3 separate regions of the Homo sapiens genome follow, and regions 2 and 3 are each linked to region 1. The links come from fine-mapping of genetic effects on gene expression. A gene starts in region 1. Each other region holds a variant in brackets. All regions are shown on one strand. Distances are from middle to middle.

The links.
Region 2: its variant is fine-mapped to the expression of MEGF9 in hippocampus (GTEx, PIP above 0.99).
Region 3: its variant is fine-mapped to the expression of MEGF9 in whole blood (TOPMed, PIP above 0.99).

What each region holds. Positions count from the first base shown.
Region 1 is chr9:120,709,869-120,718,053 of GRCh38, reverse strand. It overlaps MEGF9 (multiple EGF like domains 9), which reads left to right and starts at 3,584. Exons shown (of 6, transcript NM_001080497.3): 1 at 3,584-4,296. The coding sequence starts at 3,696. RefSeq lists a silencer at 3,047-3,896.
Region 2 is chr9:120,176,359-120,184,543 of GRCh38, reverse strand. No RefSeq gene overlaps it. Among named protein-coding and RNA genes, the nearest start is that of MIR147A, 65 kb to the left of the region's middle. The variant C/T (reference allele first, on the strand shown) is at 4,131.
Region 3 is chr9:120,732,988-120,741,172 of GRCh38, reverse strand. No RefSeq gene overlaps it. Among named protein-coding and RNA genes, the nearest start is that of MEGF9, 23 kb to the right of the region's middle. The variant A/G (reference allele first, on the strand shown) is at 4,490.

The DNA.
Region 1 (8,185 bases):
TTAGTGTCCTTTTAAAGGACACCCAGGGAGCTCACTGAATCTGCTGGTGCCTTGATCTTGGACTTCCCAGGCACCAGAGCTGGGAGAGATATATTTTTTGTTGTCTACAAGCCACAATCTACAGTACTTTGTTGCAGCAGCCCAAATGGACTAAGACATAATAGTACCTATTTCCTGGGGTTTTTAGGATTAAACAAAACAATTCATATGTAGCTCTTGGTATAGTGTCTAGCATAGACTATGAGCTCAATTATTTACTATTAATATTTGCTATACTGTCTTCATAGCTACACTTACAATGACTTTCTAGGATTAAATTTAACAGGTATAATAATACCTTTCTTTGATGACAGATATGTAAGGTATTTCCAATTTTTAAACACAAACATAATTCCTAAGAAAGTCATCTTGTAGTTTAGAGATTAAGGAAGATTTAAGATTAAGGAAATTTAAAAATTAAATGTTGAATGGACATTAACACATTTAAATTACTGGTATCTTTCAAAAAAATTCAATATTTTCTATACATATGACAGGCTAATATCCCATCTTAAAAGCCCCGGCATGGATGATCCTTGCCTAAGGCAGAGAGCTGACCTGAATCACTCGACAAGGTCTCCTAGTCATTTGCTCTGTGGCTCTCCTGGCCAAGAAGCTGCATCAGCTTTTTTCCCCTTGCCAGAGAACCTCTGATACAGCAAAGCTCAGGGCCAACCCAGCATTTTTCAGATATCATTTGGAAATATCAGGTAGGGCAAGTGTCAGGCCATGTCACCTGATGGGGAACTTATGGGGCAGGGGTTTCTGCTCTGGTCCTTCAGCCAACAAGTCTCAAAGTTAGCAATGGTATAACAAAAATATGAACCTACACAGCTTGAGCACCGTCTGTGTGCTAGGCTCTGTAAAAACATTCTCCTCAATCCTAGTCAACAAATGAGAGACTATTTATTGGCCCCATTTAATAGATGAGAAAAGTGGCCTGGCGCGGCGGCTCATGTCTGTAATCCCAGCACTTTGGGAGGTCTAGGCCGGAGGATAACTTGAGCTCAGGAGTTCGAGACCAGCCTGGCCAACATGGTGAAACCCCGTCTGTACTAAAAATACAAGAATTAACTGGGCCTGGTGGCAAGTGCCTGTAATCCCGGCTACTCGGGAGGCTGAGGCAGGAGAATCGATTGAACCTGGGAGGCGGAGGTTGCAGTGAGCCAAGATCACCCCACTGCACTCCAGCCTGGGCGACAAGGGTGAAACACTGTCTCAAAAAAAAAAAAGTGGGGGGGAAAACTGAGGCTCAGAGAGGTGAAAGGTTTCCTCCAAGGTCACAGAGTTGGCAGTCATGACCCAAGTCTGTCTGACTCTAAAGACACAAGCTCCTCCCACAAGCACGACAAGACCTCAATTAATTCAATTTAACCAGCATGGGTTGGCACTTACATGTGTTGCCCCTGCTAGGTTCTCAGAACAGGGAGAACATCTGACGTAAGAGACAGACACATAAATAACAAGTTCTAGTATTAAGGCTGATGCATGCCTATGAGAAGTAATAAAGCCATGTGGGCAATACAATTTATCCTGTTGTATATATTTCTGAAAGCCATCCTTAATCCTTTTAGGAAGAGGCAACGGAGAGGTAGATTGGTAGATCAGGGCTGTAATCAATGCATAAACAAGGGGTGGTGGGGAAATGAGAAGGGAGAGATTAATTCCCACTCAAATCCAGGAATGTCTTTTAGAGAATGTGACATTTTGGTTGGGGTTTGAAGGGCCAGGGAGGGTCAGCAAGGGAATATGGGGGACTGGCATGACCTGTCCACCCTCCCAAAGCAAAGTAAAAATAGAACCTTGGTTAGTGCTTGCTAAATATTGGTCCTGAAGACAGAACACTCACATTCTCCCTCATTCCCGCTGTCTTATATACATAGACCTATCAAGACACACCCATAGATAACCACAAATGCAAAAACACAGAAAATACACAAAAACACACACCAGTACACATGCACAGATTATTAAGACACAATATATGAAAATAGATACTAGCTCCCATACTCATAAACTCACACAGATACATACAACACTCATACACACAGACTCACAAACATGTTTATGCATTCATACACAGCCTCCCCCACCCACTACTCATGCAGGAAAATAAATGCATGCTTTAATTAACATACACGGGTTCACACATAAATCTCATCCTGCTGGTCTGGTTGAAGACCAATGACTAATGGGAAACCATGCACAAAGCCAAACATCACGTAGGGGAGGCCGGGATTGGGTTAGCAGTGGGGCTTGAATTAAGCCCCATCAGATGACAAACCCGCCCTGCCTGGCTTCCTCTGGAAGCTGCTGAGCCGAAGCAGCAGCGCCTGACCTAGCTCTGGATCCTGGGCGGATGATGCGAGGCTGCGTGCCCGAATTCCAGCTTGATTCAGGGTTTAGTGTCATCCAGGGTCAAGCTCGGCTATTAGCCCCACCCCAACCCCTGCAACCAGCCGGAGGCTCTGGGGGCACTGAAGGGCTGTGGCCTGGGGCTGCTTTCTAATCCTGGGCTTGCCCTGGCGCAAATGCTGAGAATAGTTAGCATTAATGAGGGTTACAACAGTGGGCCAGGCTCTGGGCTAAGCCCTTTACGTCCATGACTTAATTCTCACAACAGCTCTGTGAGGGGGGTGGGGGGTGAGGGGTGTCCTATCATCTCCATTTTAGTGGTGAAAAAACCGCGCTCAGGCCACAAAACCATTCAGCAAAAGACATCAAGTTGAGGTTCAACCCTGTCTGATCCTATTCTTCCCGGGGTTTAGGTAAGTGTGCTTGCGAGCCTGTCTCCTCCACGCAGGAAGCTTGCACCTTCTGCCCTCAGGGGTCTCCACCGCCCGGTCCCGCCCCCTTGTCCAGTCTGGCACAACACCTGGCCCACAGCAGGTTTCTGGTGAGGGCGTGGGTCTCGGTTCAGGGAGGCCCTCAGCAAGGGCCTCAGCTTCCCCATCTCTGAAATGGGAATGGCGGCAGAGACCTCGCAAGGCTGCGACCAGGCTCTCTGGAGCAGCAGAGGGCATGCCAAGCTCTACATCGTCGCTGCCGCTGCCCTCTCCCATCGCGGGGTTCCCGCGCGGTCCCCGCCCGAGCTGGGGTGCGGCGCTGGCGCCCCATTGTTCAGGAGGGCGGGGATGCTCCCGAGTGCTGATTCCACCCCCCGCTCGTGCTCGCAGCCCGGTGGAGCAGATGACTAGGCCCGGCGTCTGCCGCGCGGGGCGCATCCTTTGTCTGCTCCGCGGCGCCCGGTGCCCGAGGCCCGCGCCCCACTCTTTGGGCAGACAAAGCCGGGGCCGCCGCGAGCCCGGCGGGCTAGAGCTGGGCTCGCACCACCCTTCTCCCGCCTCACGGACCGCCCCCTCTCCTGGACGTCCTCTGATTGGCCTACGGGGCTACAAAGAGGCCGGGAAGCGGGCGGATCACGTGGGCGACTGTGGCTTCCCATTGGTTAGGCGCGGCTGCCAATCGAGGAGGGCGGGCGGTCCGCGCTCGGTCCGGTCGCTCCCTCCGCGCTGGGGCCCGCCCGCGGGGCCGGCCGCCTGTCAGAGGGAGGTGGCGATGGTGCGCCCGGTGGCGGTGGCGGCGGCGGTTGCGGAGGCTTCCTTGGTCGGATTGCAACGAGGAGAAGATGACTGACCAACCGACTGGCTGAATGAATGAATGGCGGAGCCGAGCGCGCCATGAGGAGCCTGCCGAGCCTGGGCGGCCTCGCCCTGTTGTGCTGCGCCGCCGCCGCCGCCGCCGCCGCCGTCGCCTCAGCCGCCTCGGCGGGGAATGTCACCGGTGGCGGCGGGGCCGCGGGGCAGGTGGACGCGTCGCCGGGCCCCGGGTTGCGGGGCGAGCCCAGCCACCCCTTCCCTAGGGCGACGGCTCCCACGGCCCAGGCCCCGAGGACCGGGCCCCCGCGCGCCACCGTCCACCGACCCCTGGCTGCGACTTCTCCAGCCCAGTCCCCGGAGACCACCCCTCTTTGGGCGACTGCTGGACCCTCTTCCACCACCTTTCAGGCGCCGCTCGGCCCCTCGCCGACCACCCCTCCGGCGGCGGAACGCACTTCGACCACCTCTCAGGCGCCGACCAGACCCGCGCCGACCACCCTTTCGACGACCACTGGCCCGGCGCCGACCACCCCTGTAGCGACCACCGTACCGGCGCCCACGACTCCCCGGACCCCGACCCCCGATCTCCCCAGCAGCAGCAACAGCAGCGTCCTCCCCACCCCACCTGCCACCGAGGCCCCCTCTTCGCCTCCTCCAGGTGAGTCCGGCGCTCCCTCTCGGGCAGGACCCGTCCTCACCTCAGCCCCGGCAATCTAGGGTTGGGCTCTTGCCTATAATTTATCGTTTGTTACCCCAAAGACACCCCAGGTTCCGGCTCCCGAGGGGGGATCCCAGGTCCAGCTAGTCTCCCTCCCGCCCCCGATCAATCTGGAAAGTCTTTTGTCCCCCGTGGGCTGTGCTCCCTCGGGAGGGGGTGGCTGCTGGGTGGAAGGCATCTCATCTTCTTCCCAACAGGGCTTTCTGGCCTTTTTCAGAGACCAGAATGGGCGCAAACTTTTGGGTTGGGTTCGCGCACCCAGCCTCTCTGCCTGGGTTATTTGGGGAAGTTTGAAAGCCCGCATAGTACCTCCTTCAACCACTGGGTCAAAAGCTGAGGGTAAGGAATTCCTCCCAAAGCTCCAGTTTCCCTGTTCATTTCTTCTTGTTTATGTAAATATCAGATGTGTGTGTATGACAGGTGGAAGAGAGGTAGTGAGAGGATTTTGTTTACAAACAGTAGTATGGACCACTTGAGGGCAAAAAATAAAAACAAAAAAGGCATTGTAATCCATGTTGTCCCTGCAAATAAGTGGATTCAGTAGGTCATTTGGGACAGGTGTGTATCTAGGCTGAGCACATTTACAAATTAGGTTAAATCTCTTCCTCGCACCATTTTTTTCTTCCACAATTATAAGGTCAACATGTTTGGCCAAATACACCATTTAAGCAAGGATGCCTATTTTTGTCTCCTTAAGCCAGGATGTTCAACTTTGCTGATGCTGATATATGCCAATTTCTGTTTGAGCCCACGTAGAAAAGGCTTTTCTTGCTGAAGTCTTCAAGCAAAGTTAAAGACAACTCGTATTCTTTCCCCGTTTAAATCTTAAGTGGGCCTAGGACTAAAACAAAACAAAACAAAAGCCTACTTTGTCAGAACGTTTGGACAAAAGTTTCTGAATTGTCTTGCTTTGAGTTGGGGTGGAGGTTTGTCCAAATCCTTTGTCTAGCTGGGTCTCTGACCTAAATCTTAGGCTTAGTGATTTACTGTGGAGTCAGGTATGGACTTTGGACTATAATTGAGTGTGTAGAGAATTTTCCCACATGGTTATGAACCTTAATACAGTCTTGATCCTTGGGTTGGAGCTTGGCAATGACATAAGTAGGATTATTCACCCATAAAAAGCCAAGTGTGCATCTCTTCCAGCTTCAAGGAATGCATTAGCTAGCTGGGTTTTACCTGTAACCCCTTTTGGCTTTCATATAGAGAGATTGACATATTACTGAGAGACAGGAAGCATAGTGGTTGAGAGTATGGACTCTGGAGTTTATTCTTAGGTTTGAATCCTAGCTCTTCCCCTTGTTAGCTGTGTAAGCTTAGGCGGCTCACTGAAGCTCTTTGGACTCAGTTTCTTTGATTGTGAAATGAAGATAATATTATAGTAGTACTTAACTCATAAGGTTGCTGTGAAGACTTTTTTTGTTTTTGTTTTTGTTTTTTGAGACAGGGTCTGGCTCTGTTGCCCAGGCTGAAGTGCAGTGGCACAATCTTGGCTCACTGCAACCTCTGCCTCCCAGGCTCAAGCGATCCTCCCACCTCAGCTTCCTGAGCAGCTGAGACTACAGGCGTGGGTCACCACACCCAGCTAATTTTTTGTATTTTTTGTAGAGATGAGGGCTCACTATATTGCCCAGGCTAGTCTTGAGTTCCTGAACTCAAGCAGTCCTCCTGCCTCGGCCTCCCAAAGTTCTAGGATTTCAGGCATGATTCACTTCACCAGGCCTGCTGGGAAGATTAAATAAGTTAACACTTACTGTGCTTACAACAGTTCCTAGTGTAGAATAAGCACCGTGTGTGTTAGCTATGCTTATGACCAGGCCTGTGGGTGTGTGTGTGTGTGTGTGTGTGTGTGTATGTATGTATGTATAGAAAGCATTTGAGAAAACTAGTAGGGACTTGGGGTGATTTTTATTTGTTTTAGTAAAATATAATAGAAAAAGAATGAATTAGATTCTCTGGAGTTTTAAGCATACAGTAGCATTTAAGTAGAAAGATCACTTACTTTGGTTAGTATCTGATAAATAAATCTGTGTAATTCATGTTATTTTACTTTTACTATTTTTGTGTTGTTATTTTTCAACCCCAAAGGTAACCCCTACTGGCAAAAAAATATAAACAACCAGAAGTCCACAAAGGAAAAAGGGAAAGTCACTCCTTCACTGCCTCCTAGTTTCAGTCAGTCCCTAGAGGTTACTACTGTTAGCAATTTGTCAGATCTTTTTTCAGCTGTTTTTGCTGGGCATATATGAACATACACACAGGGTATTTAAAAATAGATTTTAAAAAATCAAAATGGAATAATTCTATACATGTTTTGCAACTTGTGGTATTCACTTAACTATGTATCATGGACTTTTAAAAAAAATATCGGTATCTAGGGTCTACTTTATTCTTTTTAATAGTTGCATTTTCCAGGGTAAGAATGTATCATAATTTATTTAACCAAGCCCTTATTTATGGACACTTAGATTGCTTCTAGGCTTCACTTTAAAAAGCAGAGAGGAAGCAGCACAGAGTATTTTTGTTAAATCCATCATCTATTTACTATATTCTCTAATACTTTCACTGGAGTTGCTTAGAATCCAATTCAGTATACACTGCAGTAAAGCTGGATTGAGTAATATTTGTCATCTGAACTGTTGTTCAAGGCTTTTAATAATTTTCATGAACTAACATTATACTTACGTCTGTGATGGTCTTTGGGTGAAAAAATCTTGGAAGGATGTCCAATTTCGATAACTTTCCTGTGTTTTAAATATTAGGTAGTTTGTACTTCTCTGTGAATTCACTCTAGATTGCCAATATCTAGTTCTCAGCAGCTAAATTGACTTTACAGTGATCTGATCAAGTATGGAGCATGGGCTCCAGTCTACTTTAAACAGAAAACATATCTCTTTGGCAGAAGGAAAACTTATAATTGAATTTGAGACAACTGGTTTGGCTTGCAAAGTTGGATTCCCTGGCATTTGAGAAGATGGTTGTACAGTATTTTTTAATTTCAACGTTCCTGTAAGAACTAATGCCACTGATAATATATTATTTGATTGAATAGGTCTTATAGATGCTTTTTGAATTAATAATAATTTCTTTCATGGAGATCTAGCTGAGAGCTCTTGCCTGCCCCTCAGTTAGGGCCCTTTTTTGTTTACAAGGACACTGATCTGCAAACTGAAACTAATTGCCCAGCAAGCAGGCACTTTTTCTCCCACAAACCCAGCAAAACATTCACTGATTGGTTGGCTGGGTAGGACTTTTTTTTTTTTTTTTTTTTTTAAGACGGAGTTTCGCTCTTGTTGCCCAGGCTGGAGTGCAATGGTGCTATCTCGGCTCACCACAACCTCCACCTCCCGGGTTCAAGCGATTCTCCTCAGTCTTCCAAGTAGCTGGGATTACAGGCATGTGCCACCATGCCCAGCTAATTTTGTGTTTTTAGTAAAGACAGTGTTTCTCCATGTTGGTCAGGCTGGTCTCGGATTCCCGACCTCAGGTGATCTGTCCACCTTGGCCTCCCAAAGTACTGTAATTACAGGTGTAAGCCACCGTGCCTGGCCCTGGGTAGGACATTTTAAGCAGGGTGAAGAGAGATGCTGTGATACCAGAGGTAATAATAATCAGTAAGACACTAAGGTAATGACAAATGTTTGATTTTTTTTTTTTTTTTTTTTGAGACGGAGTTTCGCTCTTTTTGCCCAGGCTAGATTGGCTCACTGCAACCTCCACCTCCGGGTTCAAGCGATTCTCTTGCCTCAGCTTCCCAAGTAGCTGGGATTACAGGTGCGCACCACCATGCCTGGCTAATTTTTGTATTTTTAGTAGAGATGGGGTTTCA
Region 2 (8,185 bases), 530 kb after region 1:
GTGAGTGGAAGTTGACCAGTTGCCAAAGGTGATTGTGGGAGGATGCGGTTCTAGTCACTGACCCAGAGCCAGGGCACAGATGGTGTTTTGCATAAGTCTGAAGACTAAAAAATAGGTGCTTTTGTGACAAACCCCCATAGGACAAAGAGGGTCATGAAACAGGGAGGATACTCCTTTTGTTCAGAGACTGGTGAAAAAGAGAAATAAATAAATGAATGTGTGAAAATTTCTCTACCAACCCCAAAGCAATTTGATGATCCGTTGTTCCCTTGGGGTCCTATAATCTTCCTTTACATAATTCTATTATAGTACATATGATGCTGTGTTCTAATTACTATTTGATGTATCTGACACTCCACTTGACTTCAAGGTCAAGGACTTTATTTTTATTCATTCTTATGCCCATACCACCTAATGCAGCTTGGCACATGGAGTCCTAAGCAGATGTTTGCCAAATGAGTGAACAACACATAAGTCCATTTTGTTACAAAGAGCAAGGAAGCCTGTGATATTCAAGGCTTTGTGTTAAATTGCAGAAGGTGGGCTATAAAGACAAAGAAGCCCCCCTCCTCCACCCTCTGGAGCTTACCAGACTCTATCATAATAGCCCACCAGGGAAGAAAGAAGAGTTCTTATTCAGCGGCTTCCCACTGGCTCTGTGTGTGAGTCCCTGAACCTGCCTGGCTCCTCACATACAGGTTGCTACACCAGGGGAGGTCCAGTCCAGGCAGAGGAAAGCACACTCTCGAGTTGCTGGGACAGCCTGCTGCTTCTAAGCTTTTGAAGTAGGAGTTTCAGAATCTGCCCTTCACCAATGTGCAAGAGCTCTGACCCAGATGACTACTCCTCATTCATTCATTTGTTCATTCCATTTCATAAAGCAAGCACGGGGCCAGGAACTGGGTGGGCATCAGGGCTTTAGAGATCAGTAAGGTGTAGCAGATACTCTACCCACTGTGGCTGTCACTACTCCCATCCGCAACTGCTTTCTACTGCCAGCACCTGTGAAGTTCTACCTGAGGGCTTTCTCTGGCTATTATGTGTCATGGGCTGGCAATGCTGGGAATCAACCAGTGGCAGGTGGGAGATGGTGAATATATATTTCAGCCGCCTCATGCATCATGTGGGGCCACTCTGGTGCATGCCCGACTCTACCTCCCGAAGTCCCCAGGGCTTTGAGCTCTGGTGGCCCACAGTGGAAACCTGCCCATCAGTGCACCCTTCCTGTCTTTCTGTCTCTGTATTATTTCCCCATCCTCCCATGGGTACTTCCTGGGATTGCCTCCTACATCAACTACATGCACTGAAATTCTAGTCTTAAGGTTTTCTTCTGAGGGGAGCCCAACCAACATAAGACACTAGATATCTGTCCCTACAAAGCTGATCCTCTATCAAGAAAGTTTGATGCTTAGTTATATGACATGGGAGTAGATGCTATAATATGGAAGATACAGGAGCCAGAGGAGCTCACAGTATGGGCCCAAGGAAGGTCTTTTGCAGCAAGCGACTTGAAGCTGAATGCGTAAATTTTCTCAATTTTTTGCTTTGGATATTGATATGGTTTGGTTGTGTTCCCACCCAAATCTCATCTTGAACTGTGGTTCTACTAGTCCCCATGTGTTATGGGAGGGAACCAGTGGGAGGTAATGGAATCATGGGGGAGGTTACTCCCATGCTGTTCTCACAATAGTGAGTGAGTTCTCACGAGACCTGTTGGTTTTATAAAGGGCTTTTTCCCCTTCACCGGACGCTCATTCTCTCTCCTGCCACCCTGTGGAGTGGTGCCTTCCGCCATGATTGTAAGTTTCCTGAGGTCTCCACAGCTATGTGGAACTGTGAGACAATTAAACCTCTTTTCTTTATAAAGCACCCAATCTCAGGTATTTCTTCATTAAGAGAAAGTGTGAGAACAGTGTGAGAACAAACTGATACAAATATCTTCTATCTACCATACCTTGTTATGAAACAATAGGTCTGAATAACCTCCTACCCCTGGTGTTGTATAGCACACTGTGTTAGGATTCCTTCTGAATTCCTTTGGAAGGAAAGGGGGATTCATGAGAAGCAGCTGCAGACACCAGCCAGGAAGGTGATTTTTATTGGCCATCTCATCTAATTCTCAGGTCAGTCCTGGGAGGCTGGAGTCATGATTCACATTTTAGAGATGAGGAAACAGACTCACATAGGTCCTTCTTGCCCAAGAGCACACATCATGCTTTGGAGATGACCTTGAGGGGTAAAAATTATCACTCTGATGTTACTGATGAGACAACTACCGTGGCTCAGCCAGCAGGAGTGATGGCCTCAGAGGCACATTGTGTTGGAGCTGGAATCAGAAACCACCACAGCCTGACTCTGGTTCTCCACTCTCTCCTCCCTCTCAGGCTGCCTGTGAGCCAGGTGGGATGCCCCTGGAGACCATCATGGGGAGTGCCCACCAAGCACAGCCTTCCACAGGGCTGGGGAAGCTCCAGGGAAAGGATGGTGCTACAATATAGTGTCATGTTTAAGAAACAGCTCTGGACTTGTACTACCTGTATGCAAATCTTGGTTCCATAAATTAGAGTGATGTGATTTGGGCAAGGCATTTACCTTCTCTGAGCCTCAATTTTCTCATCCATAAGATGGGGATAATCGTAGTAACTACCTCATGGGGTTGCTGTGAGAATTAAATAGAAGGAAAGTGCTCCAGATAGTGACAAAACAATATACAATCCATAAAGCACTACAGATTCAACTTGTTTAATGTTTGGTAGGAATGGACACTGAGTTGAGATACTTAGAAACATGATTCCATTTTGTCCTTAAGAGTCAGTAAATTTTGGTTACTGTAGCCTTGTAGCATAGTTTGAAGTCAGGTAGTGTGATGCCTCCAGCTTTGTTCTTTTTGCTTAGGATTGTCTAGGCTATAGGGGGGTCTTCTTTGATTCCATATGAAATTTAAAATAGTTTCTTCTAAGTCTGTGAAGAGTGTCAATGGTAGCTTGATGGGGATAGCATTGAATCTATAAATTACTTTGGGCAGTATGGCTATTTTTGTGATATTAATTCTTCCTATCCATGAGGATGGAATGATTTTCCATTTGTTTTCTGTCCTCTCTTATTTCCTTGAGCTGTGGTTTGTAGTTCTCCTTGAAGAGGTCCTTCACATCCCTTGTCAGCTGTATTCCTAGGTATTTTATTCTCTTTGTAGTGATTGTGAATGAGAGTTCATTCATGATTTGGCTCTCTGCTTGTCTATTGTTTGTGTAAAGGAATGCTTGTGATTTTTGCACATTGATTTTGTATCCTGTGACTTTGCTGAGGCTGCTTATCAGTTCAAGGAGTTTTTGGGCTGAGATGATGGAGTTTTCTAAATATAAAATCATGTCATCTGCAAACAGAGACAACTTGTCTTCCTCTCTTCCTACCTGAATACCCTTTATTCCTTTCTCTTGCCTGATTGCCTTGGCCAGAACTTCCAATACTATGTTGAATAGGAGTGGTGAGAGAGGGCATCTTGTCTTGTACCAGTTTCCAAAGAGAATGCTTCCAGCTTTTGCCCATTCAATATGATATTGGCTGTGGGCTTGTCATAAATAGCTCTTATTATTTTGAGATATGTTCCATCAATACCTAGTTTATTGAGAGTTTTATAACATTAAGGGATGTTGAATTTTAACAAATCTGTATCTATCGAGATAATCATGGGGTTTGTGTCTTTGGTTCTGTTTATGTGATGGATTACATTTATTGATTTGTGTATGTTGAACCAGCCTTGCATCCCAGGGATGAAGCTGACTTGATTGTGGTGGATAAGTTTTTTGATGTGCTGCTGGATTCAGTTTGTCAGTATTTTATTGAGGATTTTTGCATCAATGTTCATCAGGGATATTGGCCTGAAGTTTTCTTTTTTTGTTGTGTCTCTTCCCAGTTTAGGTATCAAGATGATTCTGGCTTCATAAAATGAGTTAGGGAGGAGTCCTTCCTCTTCAATTGTTTGGAATAGTTTCAGAAGGAATGGTACCAGCTCCTCTTTGTAATACTGGTAGAATTCAGCTGTGAATCCATCTGGTCCTGGGCTTTTTTTTGTTGGTAGGCTATTAATTACTACCTCATTTCGGAGCTTGTTATTGGTCTATTCAGGGATT[C/T]GACTTCTTCCTGGTTTAGTCTTAGTAGAGTGTATGCATCCAAGAATTTATCCATTTCTTCTAGATTTTCTAGTTTATTTATGTAGAGGTATTTACAGTACTCTCTAATGGTAGTTTGTATTTCTGTGGGGTCAGTGATGATATCACTTTATCATTATTTATTGTGTCTATTTGATTCTTCTCTCTCTTCTTCTTTATTAGTCTAGCTAGCGGTCTATCTATTTTGTTAATTTTTCAAAAAACCAGCTCTTAGATTTGTTGATTTTTCGGAGGGTTTTTCGTGTCTGTATCTCCTTCAGTTCTTATCTGATCTTAGTTATTTGTTGTCTTCTGCTAACTTTTGGATTAGTTTGCTCTTGCCTCTCTAGCTCTTTTAATTGTGATGTCAGGATGTCGCTTTGAGATCTTTCTAGCTTTGTGCTGTGGACATTTATTGTTATAAATTTCCCTCTTAACACTGCTTTAGCTATGTCCCAGAGATTCTGGTACATTGTCTCTTTGTTCTCATTGGTTTCAAAGAACTTCTTGATTTCTGCCTTAATTTCATTATTTACCCAGGAGTCATTCAGGAGCAAGATGTTCAATTTCCATGACATTGTGTGGTTTTGAGTGAGTTTCTTAATCCTGAGTTCTAATTTGATTGCTCTGTGGTCTGAGAGACTGTTTGTTATGATTTCAGTTCTTTTGCTGAGGAGTGTTTTGCTTCAAATTATGTGGTCGATTTTAGAATAAGTGCCATGTGGCACTGAAAAGAATGTATATTCAGTTGATTTGGGGAACAGAGTTCTGTAGATGTCTACTAGGTCCACTTGATCCAGAGCTGAGTTCAAGTCCTGAATATTCTTTTTAATTTTCTGTCTTGTTAATCTGTCTAATACTGACAGTGGGGTATTAAAGTCTCCCACTATTATTGTGTGGGAGTCTAAGTCTCTTTGTAGGCCTTTAGAAACTTGTTTTATTAATCTGGGTGCTCCTGTATTGGGTGCACATATATTTAGAATAGTTAGCTCTTCTTGTTGAATTGTTCCCTTTACCATTATGTAATGCCCTTCTTTGTCTTATTGGGTCTTTGTTGGTTTAAAGTCTGTTTGTCAGAGACTAGGATTGCAACCCCTGATTTTTTTTTCCTTCTTTCCATTTGCTCAGTAAATTTTCTTCCATCCCTTTATTTTGAGCCTGTGTGTGTCTTTGCACGTAAGATGTGTCTCCTGAATACAGCACACCAATGGGTATTCAATTTGCCAGTCTGTGTCTTTTAATTGGGGCATTTAGCCCATTTACATTTAAGGTTAGTATTGTTGTGTATCAATTTGATCCTGTCATCATGATGCTACTTGGTTATTCTGCATACTAGTTGGTGCAGTTTCTTCACTGTGTCATTGGTCTTTATATTTTGGTGTGTTTTTGCAGTGGCTGGTACCAGTTTTTCCTTTCCATATTTAGTACTGGTACCAAAACAGACATATAGACCAAAGGAGCAGAACAGAGACCTCAGAAATAACACCACACATCTACAACCATCTGATCATCGACAAACCTGACAAAAACAAGCAATGGGGAAAGAATCTCCTATTCAGTAAATGGTGCTGGGAAAACTGGCTAGCCATATGCAGAAAACTGAAACTGGATCCCTTCCTTACACCTTATACAAAAATTAACTCAAGATGGATTGAAGATTAAAGGTAAAACCCCAAACCATAAAACCCTAGAAGAAAACCTAAGTGATACCATTCATGACATGGGCATGGGCAAAGACTTCATGACAAAAATGCCAAAAGCAATTGCAACAAAACCAAAATTGACACATGGGATCTAATTAAACTAAAGAGCTCCTGCACAGCAAAAGAAACTATCATCAGAATGAACGGGCAACCTACAGAATGGGATAAAATTTTTTGCAATCTACCTGTCTGTCTAATATCTGGAATTTACAAGGAACTTAAACATATTTACAAGAAAAAAACAACCCCATTAAAAAGTGAGCAAAGGATATAAACAGACACTTCTCATAATAAGACATTTACACAGCCAACAAACATGAAGAAAAAGCTAAACATCACTGATCATTAGAGAAATGCAAATCAAAACCACAGTGAGATACTATCTCATGCCAGTCAGAATGGTGATTATTAAAAAGTCAGGAAACAATAGATGATGGCGAGGCTGTAGAGAACTAGGAACACTTTTACACTGTTGGTGGGAATGTAAATTAGTTCAACCATTGTGGAAGACAGTATGGTGATTCCTCAAGGATCTAGAACCAGAAATACCATTTGACCCAGGGATCCCATTACTGGGTATATACCCAAAGGAATATAAATCATTCTATTTTAAAGACACATGTACACGTATATTTATTGCAGCACTATTTACAATAGCAAAGATATGGAACCAACCCGAATGCCCATCAATGATAGATTGGATAAAGAAAATGTGGTACATATATACCATGGAATACTATGCAGCCATAAAAAGGAATGAGATAATGTTCTTTGCAGCAACATGGATGAAGCTGGAAGCCATCATTGTCAGCAAACTAACACAGGAACAGAAAACCAAACACTGCATGTTCTCACTCAAAAGTGGGAGTTGAACATTGACAACACATGGACACAGAGAAGGGAACAATACACACCAGGGCCTGTTGTGGGGTGGAGGGTGAGGGGAGGGAACTTAGAGGATGGGTCAATAGGCACAGCAAACTACTATGGTATCCATATACCTATGTAACAAACCTGCACGTTCTCCACATGTATCCCTTTTTTTTTAAGAAGAAATAATAATTTTAAAAAAGTCAGTGAAGTTGGCATTATTGCCTTCTGTTTTACAGAGGAGAAGAATGGGGCACAAGGCGGTTAAGTAACTTGCTTAGAGTCACACAGCTGGTGGCAGAGCTGAGCAGTCTGACTCAAGCTAGTGCTCCTGACCACTGCATAGTGACCCTTCCTCTTGGTCTAGCAGGGTCTGTGGCTGCCACTTGGAACCTGATCCAATGATTCCCAGGCTTGTCCTTCACTTTGTATGTCAGCACTGGCTCCTGGTATTGAGGCCTCTGAGGGCAGCTGGGCCATTTTCCTAAGTAGTGTCTGTGGCAGCTCACTTCCTTTGCTGCCAACATAGGATGTTGGCAGGAATGACCAGAGCTGGATTCATGCTGTCTCCATCCGAAGTCCCAGATTGCACAATCTGCTCTCATCTCCATTCTGCAGGGACCCCACAAGCCCTCCAAAAGGTGCCCATGAAAGAACTCACACTACCCACATCCCAGACTCATCTTCCCATCTCAACAGTACTTAGCAATGTACCCATCTTTTAATTTTTGGGCCCTGCTGTAATATTAAGGCAGTAATTTATACACTTGGCTCCCGAGCTCCTGGCTGTTTCAAAGGCATTGATCACCCCGGAGCACTCATACAGGATTCAGGCTTACTCCTCCAACTCCTCTGCCAGCTATTGATTCCAATGACATTATTTATCAATTACGAAAGGTTTATTCCTCACTCGCTCCTGCACAAAAGAATCTGCGCATTTATTTTACAGCATGATTTATTGACACGTCACCATGCGTTACATGGAAAATTGAATTTTTGGAGGCTGGATAACCTTAGGAAATTTCACAGGTTCAATTAGACAGGAGAACATCAAAGAGTTTAATGATACAATTTTTCATCCATTTGCTGCAGCACTGGGAAAGGAGGGGCCCCAGGGCCAGGTCAGCTCAGAGCCCCAAACTATTCTTTAGTTCAGGTGTGCACTTAAGGATGAAGTCCTCATTGGCTGAAACCCTCCCTCAGATACTTTTGAGCCCTGGCTCAGGGCTTTTATTTATGACTCCCAAGGTCAGGATATTTCTTTAAGCTGGGTTCACCTTTTGTCCCCAGAGCAATAAACCTTTCCTTTGGCTGTTGGGGAGACTTGGACAGATCTTTCCTTGAACCATGATGGAAGGAAGGACCATCTGCGTTGGTGGATGAGCCTAAGAGAGAAATGGTGGTGTGATGTTTAGAGCCCATTTTGCATCATCTCTCCATCCATCAGATCCAAGCTCAATCATG
Region 3 (8,185 bases), 23 kb before region 1:
AATTCATTTAAACAATCCCCATTGGATATTTAGGTTAGTTCTATTTTTTAGCATAAGTAAGGCTTCGACAACCAGCCTTTATACAAATCTGTACCCACATCTCTACATTTTTCCCCTTAGGTTAAATTGTAAATTTTTTTTTTTTTTTTTTGAGACAGTGTCTCCCTCCATTACCCAGGCTGGAGTGCAGTCGTGCGATCGTAGCTCACTGCAGCCTCAAACTCCTGGGCTCAAACCATCCTCCCGCTTTAGCCTCCCCGTGTAGCTGGGGATACAGGTGTACACCACCAAACCTGGCCAAAACTTTTAAATGTATCACCAAATTGCCCTCCAAGTGAAGTTACACATGTGTACACTCTCATGAGTAACGTTTGAGTGGCTATTTCCCCATGATCTCTCCAACACTGGTTATTGTGGTTTTTTAAAAGACCTTGCCAATGTCATAGGTAAAAAAATAGCATATCATTGTTTGAATCTAATGTTATTTTCATTATACTGTTTTATTTCTGGTAGAATGTAAAATTGCATACATACTATTTTTACAACTTTATAAAAATACATGGAACACACATGTTTCAAATGTGGAAAGAACAATAGAAAAATGTCAGTAGTTGTATGATGGGATTGTAATATAATTCTTTTATGTTGTAAATTTTTTAAATTAAAAAGAATCTCTGTAGCAGATGGCTACTTATTCCTCCAAATTCTTCCCCTCTTCCTGGGCACAGTTGCCCAGCTACAGGCTACATTTCCTAGACTCCTGTGCAGCTGGATGTGACCATGTGGTTAAGTGTGGACTAACCAAATATTGAAAGGAAGTGATGTGAACATTTTCTGGGTCATCTCCAGATTTAAGCTCCTTATCTGGAATGTTGGTTCTTCCTCCTTTCCCAGAGTTAGCAACCCAGCCTTGATTAAGCAAATAATGACACCTTAGGGGATGGAGACCAACAGGGAAACTACCTGTTTTTTGTTTTTTGTTTTTTTGACAGAGTCTTGCTCTGTAGCCCAGTGGCATCATCTTGACTCACTGCAACCTCCGCCTCCTGGGTTCAAGCAATTCTCCCTGCCTCAGCCTCCCGAGTAGCTGGGATTACAGGTGTCCGCCACCACGCCCTGCTAATTTTTGTATTTTTAGTAGAGACGGGGTTTCGCCATATTGGCCAGGCTGGCCTTGAACTCCTGACCTCAGGTGATCCACCTGCCTCGGCCTCCCAAAGTGCTGGGATTACAGGCATGTGCCACCGCTCCTGGCTGAAACTGTATCTGTTTATGGCGGCATCACTTGACCAATCCAGCCTGGTTGTTTTGTTTTGTAAGAGAAAAATTAATTTTGATGTTTTTGCACCCACGATATTTTGGGGCCTCTTTGTTACAGCAGTGTAGCTGTGACCCTAATAATCTCAAACTTCTCCCTAAGACTGGGGACATTTTAGGGACAGTTTCACAGTTTGTGGAGCTGATTGGAAGCTGGTAGCAGAGGACTGGGAAGCTACTATATACTTTCCTGAATACTAGAAAATGTTTTTTTTTTATATTCCTTCATATAAACTTTAACAAAATTCTGTGTTAGTATATTTTTTGTTTACAAGGTTTAGAAATAAAAAAATATAATTTATGGTCGATACAAAATACAAAATCACAACGTAAACATCACAACTATAAGTATCCAAAAAAATAAGCTGCCAACCAACATGCTCCATTGAGGATAAATTTCTCTTATTAATAATACTTTGAAGGCTACAGGTTATCACTGGTTTTGCTACATTGTGTACTTTTAATGGCAATGATTGTGGTTTACATGATCATGACAATAAGAAGCATACTTTTATTTTTTTATTTTTATTCTTTTTTTTTTTGAGACGGAGTCTCACTCTGTCGCCCAGGCTGGAGTGCAGTGGTGCGATCTCAGCTCACTGCAACCTCCGCCTCCTGTGTTCACGCCGTTCTCCTGCCTCAGCCTGCCGAGCAGCTGGGACAACAGGCGCCCGCCACCACGGCCGGCTAATTTTTTTTTTCTTTTTTCGTATTTTGAGTAGAGATGGGGTTTCACCATGTTAGCCAGGATGGTCTCGATCTCCTGACCTCGTGATCCGCCCGCCTCGGCCTCCCAAAGTGCTGGGATTACAGGCATGAGCCACCGCGCCTGGCCATTTTTATTCTATTTTTTAAGACAGGGTCTCACTCTGTTGCCTAGGCTGGAGTGCAGTAGCGTGATCATGGCTCACTGCAACCTCCGCCTCCCAGGTCCAAGTGATTCTCCTGCCTCAGCCTCCTGAGTAGCTGGGACTACAGGTGCACGCCACTACGCCCAGCTAATTTTGTATTAGTGGAGACAGGGTTTCACCATGTTGGCCAAGCTGGTCTCGAACTCCTGGCCTCATGTGATCCACCCCCTTGGCCTCTCAAAGTACTGGGATTACAGGCAGGAAGGATACTTTTAAAAAACAGTTTCAGGCTGGGCGTGGTGGGTTTCATCTTTATCCTAGCACTTTGGGAGGCCGAGGCAGGTGGATCACTTGAGGTCAGGAGTTGGAGACCAGCCTGGCCAACATGTGAAACCCCGTCTCTACTAAAGATACAAAAATTAGTTGAGCGTTGTGGCAGACACCTGTAATCCCAATTACTTGGGAGGCTGAGGCAGGAGAATTGCTCAAAACCCGGGTTTCGATGAGCCAATATGGCACCGCTGCACTGCAGCCTGGGCAATAGAGTGAGACTCCATCTTATAAATAAATAAATAAATAACAGTTTCACATTATTGGTTCAATTGAATGGATTCACAGTTACTGCTGTTGAATGTAGTTGCAATGACTACTCTGGAAAGTACAGTGCCAGGTGGCACTCTGAGAAGTCAGCATTTGTCCTAGGTATTGGACGTTGGCAAGAGACCCCAGCACCACACACAGGAAGTTTGGAAGGTACTCATCACAACAGTTCACCCACTATCTTCATGAACAACTGGTTCCACAGCCACCAGGATGACTTGGGTCCACAATTCTCGTCACCATTATACAGCCTAGCTATGACCCACTCCCTGGGGACCTAGGGAGTCAGGACCTTCAAAATCTAGGGAAGGCAACAGTGACTTCAGCTTCCCCTCGTCACGTGGGAGGGGAGCCTTCCTTTCTCCTGAGCGGGCCCTCTCCTAGAACCCACAGTAGTTGTAGGGTGGCAGTGATCCCCAGCCTGCTCCTTAGTGAGGAAGCCTGGATTCTGTTCCTCCTTGTGACATGGCAGAGACAGGAATTTCAAGGCCAGAGGGCATGGATGTGCTTCCCAGCCCTACTTCTTACTATCGCGAGAACCAGTGTGGGCAAGGGATGCCATTTTGCATTTTGTCATGGTTTTTCCTCCACTTAAGATCACCATTTGCAATTCACTTGTTGCTATATTGCCTTCATAGTTATCATTTTAGTAATTGTACATTATTTAATTGAACAATAGAATTTACTTAAAGAGCTCCTTGTTGTGGACTCTTTAAGTAGTTCCCAATTTTGTGTTACTACAAAAATTGCTGCAATTAGTATATTTTGCAATACAACTTTTTGCTTCTGTTGGATAATTCCCTCAGGAAATGGGGTAAGTTTTGACTATCTCTTAGACTAGAAGGATGTTGTGGTAACAATATCTTTCTTTGCTTAGCAAACAATGAAGAAGACCAGAACTATCCTTCAGTAAGAAGTGCTTAACTAAACTATGCTACCTCTAATTAATGGAATACAAGGCAACTACTTAAAGAAATTAGGATTACTTTATAATAGCCAAAAATGGAAGCAATTTAGATGCTCATCAGCTAATAGATAAATAAAATATGGTATTATATCCATACAGTGGAATATTACTCAGCCATAAAAAGGAATGAGGTACATACTACAACATGGATGAATCTTGAAAACATTACGCTACATAAAATAAATTAGACACAGAAGGCCACATATAATATGATTCCATTTGTATGAAATGTGTAGAATAGGCAAATCCATAGAGATGGAAAATAAGATAAGCAGTCCTTGGGGGCAGGGGAAGGGGGCAATGGGGCATGATTACTAACAGATACAGGGTTTCTTTTTGGGATGATGAAATTGTCCTGAATTAGGTAATAGTGATGATTGCAAGAAAGACCTCATGAATATGCTAAAAACCACTGACTTGTACACTTTAAAAGGGTGAGCTTTAATACTGTAATAATACTGTAAAATTCTCAATTTTTAAAAAAGAGAAGGGTTGGGCACAGTAGCTCACGCCTGTAATCCCAGCACTTTGGGAGGCCAAGGCAGGCAGATCACCTGAGGTCAGTAGTTCGAGACCAGCCCGGCCAACATGGGGAAACCCCGTCTCTACTAAAAATACAAAAATTAGCTGGGCATGGTGGCAGGTGCCGGTAATCCCAGCTACTCCGGAGGCTGAGGCTGAAGAACCGCTTGAACCTGGGAGGCGAAAGTTGCAGTGAGCTGAGATTGTGCCATTGGGCTCCAGCCTGGGTGAC[A/G]AGAGCAAAACTCCGTCTCCAAAAAAAAAAAAAGAGAGAAAGATCTAAATGTATTCACATGTTGTATTATTCATTGAAAAAAGCAAAGTACAGAATAACATCTATCCTATGCCATTTTTGTGAAAGTCTTTTTTTGATATTTCATGGTCGAGATTGTGGGGCTTCTTCCAGAATATGTCAGTCTTGCCTTCACTCTGCCATAAGTTCAGGCAAGAAAGCAGCTCCTTTCTCTAAAGAATAGATAGCACCTGCCATGCACCAGGTACTGTGATAATGTATAACAATTTCTGTGTAATGTATAATTATTCCCATTTTTCAGATGGCAAAACTGAAAGATAAGAGAGATGAGTGACTTGCCAAGTTTACACAGCAAGGACAGGAATGAAAACTCAAGCCTGTCTAACTCCAGAGAAGGAAGAGCGTGGGCTCTTGGAATCTGATTCTCAGCTTTGTTTGTTCCCTGTGGATTGTCAGGCCATGGGCCTGGAGGCTGCTCCATTTCAGGAAGCGTAGCTAACAAGAATGCTGGTTTATGAATTTACACGGAGAGGTTGTTCATGGTCCTTTATTTGAGAATAGTAGTAAGTGGACGTCAGAGAGTCATCTTGCCCCAGGGGTACGCCCCTGTATTTTGATGGGAATATTTCAGTAGCTCCTAACTGGTCCACTCATGTTGCCTGGATGTTCCATGCTCCTTCACAAAGCTGTCCTTGCTAAGTTGCTAACTAGAAAACCCTTCCTGCCTACCAGCTAGTCAACAAACTCCTACTTCCCCATCAAAACCCAGCTAATATGTCCCTTCTGTTTTCTTTTCAACAACACCATTTATAGATCCTCCAACTGAGCCTTTTTAATAACACTAGTAATGTTATCATTTATTGAGCTCCCATTATCTGCTAGGCAATTTTAAGTATTGATATACTTGTACCTTTTAATGTTCATGGTAATTATGCAATACAAGTATAACTATTTACATTTCTTCCAGATGAGGAAACAACCTCGAGATGTTAGGAAATTTGCCCAAAGTCTCACAACCAGGACATGAAGAAACAGAACTTTCTGACTCCAAAGTTCATACTCTCCCCCTTACACCACATCCCCTTTTCCTTGCACCATTCACTTTGAATTGCAAATACTGCTTGTCACTTGTCACCATCTTCACCCTTGCCCCACAAGCCCTGGCAGGCAGGTGGTGGCTCTGATTTCAGGACTGCCACCCCATTGTCCAGTACAAGGCCTGCTCTCAAGTGGCCAATCCTAAAAGTTGCATAGCAGTGAATTGTTTCATTTACAGGAACACACCTTGGAAAATAAAAGCAATGTGTTCATTCTTTCCCTGCAGATGGGATAGGCCCACTCTCTCCCCCGAAGAGGTGATAAGGGGGCAGGTCTTGTCTCCTTGAGGACTTGCAGATGTTTCCTGAGGCCCTGAGAGCATTTCTGCTTCTGACCTGCCTTGGCTGCCACTGCCAGTTAATGTGAGCTGCTGGGAAAGCCAGCTTCATGGCTCTGCTGCGTGTGGATGCCAACCACTGACTCCAGCCAGCTCTCCTGGAAACTGCCCTGAAATATTAAGGCTAGTAGGGGCCCACCAAGGATGGAGGCTGCATCACCAGCTTGCTGGATTCTCACTGAAGCCCAGCAGGATTTTCATTGCAGAAACTAAGCTTGTTAAGACCTCAAGCTTGGCAGTCAGCTCTAGCTTTGAAAATCTCCTCTACCACTTACTAAATCTGTGGTCTCTGGGCAAGTTTCTCAGCCTTTCTTAGCCTCAGTTCCTTCATCCATAACAGGAAGTAATTGCCTTCTTTTCTAGGTTGTTGATAAAAAGAGATAATGCACATAAAACCCTTCCCATTGAGCCCAGCACAGTGCCTGCATACAACAACTGCACCAAAAGTGATGATAATAATGATCATTGTTATGCAACTATCCATGGCAAATTTTTTCTTGTTTGCAGCTAAGAATCTTGATATGGCTAATATTATTAGTTGGGGGAGCAGAATAGTTTCTTTGGAAGGACAAGTCATTTGGGCTAGATGAGTAGTTTTCCCTAGTCCAGGACCAGTCCTGCCTGAGAAAGTGATCTCCCACCTTTGGGTGTAAACATATGCTGTTCTAGATCCCAATTCCTGGAGTAACCCTGGGAAGGCAGAGGCCTGGTCAAAACAAGACCCGTACTTTCCTGAATGCCAGGAAGCAATTACTTCTGTATCCCAACCACCTAACTCTAGACAGAGCAATTAGCAATTATTAAAATAATTTATTATTTTTTGAAGAAAGTGAATGATAATTTTATAGTGAACAATGTTTAAAAGTTAGAAAGTATTTTCTTAGGGATTATGATACTTACATTACTTAAGCACACAAATACCCACAAAAAAGAACATGGACTTTATTTAAATTTTACATAACTATTTCTTGAACTCTTCCAGTTTTCATCAACAGGGCTGCAGGGAGAAACTGATTGATTTGTGCAGTTTGGGTTTCCAATATTTTCCCTGGACATTCTTTCATATATACTTTTCTATATTTTGACGAATTTCATTTTGTCATTTTTAAGCTTATCATAGTATTCTTTCAAATGGGGGCCAAAGTTTGCTCATCCACCTGTCATTTGGGACCTGGGTAGGCCCCACTTTATGTAATCATGCATAATACTAGCAACCTTTATTTAAAAAAAGATTTATTTATTTACTTATTTTTTGAGACAGTCTCACTCTGTTGCCCAGGCTGGAGTGCAATGGCATCATCTTGGCTCACTACAACCTCTGCCTCCTGGGTTCAAGCAATTTTCCTGCCTCAGCCTTCCGAGTAGGTGGGATTACAGGTGTCCGCCACCACACGTGGCTAAATTTTGTATTTTTAGCAGAGACAGGGTTTTGCCATGTTGGCCAGGCTGGTCTCAAACTCCTGACCTCAGGTGATCTACCCACCTCAGCCTCCCAAAGTGCAGGGATTACAGGCGTGAGCTACCGCTCCTGGCCTGAAACAAGATTTAAAAACAATTTTGGAAATACATCCTTAGGACGAATCACTTAGATGTGGACTTGGGAGCCAAAGGATAGGAATAGATTTTTCTGCTTTTGTTACTAAAGGTTGGATTATCCTGAAGATAGAGAAAACCAGCTCACAGAGATCCTCCATGCACTCACTTCTGGTCTGAAATAGGAAAGAAATACAGAAGCAATGCCAATGAGATGACAAGGCACTCTTTGCAGAGCCAGGCAGCATTTGCTGGAAGGGGCTGGACTTTTCTTTTCCATGGGAACGTTCTCAGCTGATATCCCAGTCCTCTGGCTGTCAGTTTATTCAGGGCTACTCCACCCCCGCCTCAACTGCCTTTGCAGGAATTGCACAGTGGTAGTTGACACAGAGCCGGACGCACTCTAGAACCTCCCATGAATTCCAGAGAGTCAAATGCCTGTGGTGGGCAGGAATAAATGTTCTACTTGAACAAGGTGACATGGCCTGGGAGAGGGAGAACCACACCGACCAGGCAGGGCCCCGCCATCAACCTGCTGATGCAACAGGTACCCCCTCCCCACCTGGATGGCAGATTTCTTAATTTACACAACTATAGATGCATTTATTTGGCTTAGGAATTTGATTCCTTTTTTTTTTTTATACAGTTTCACTCTGTCACCCAGGCTGGAGTGCAGTGGCGCCATCTTGGCTCACTGCAACCTCCGCCTC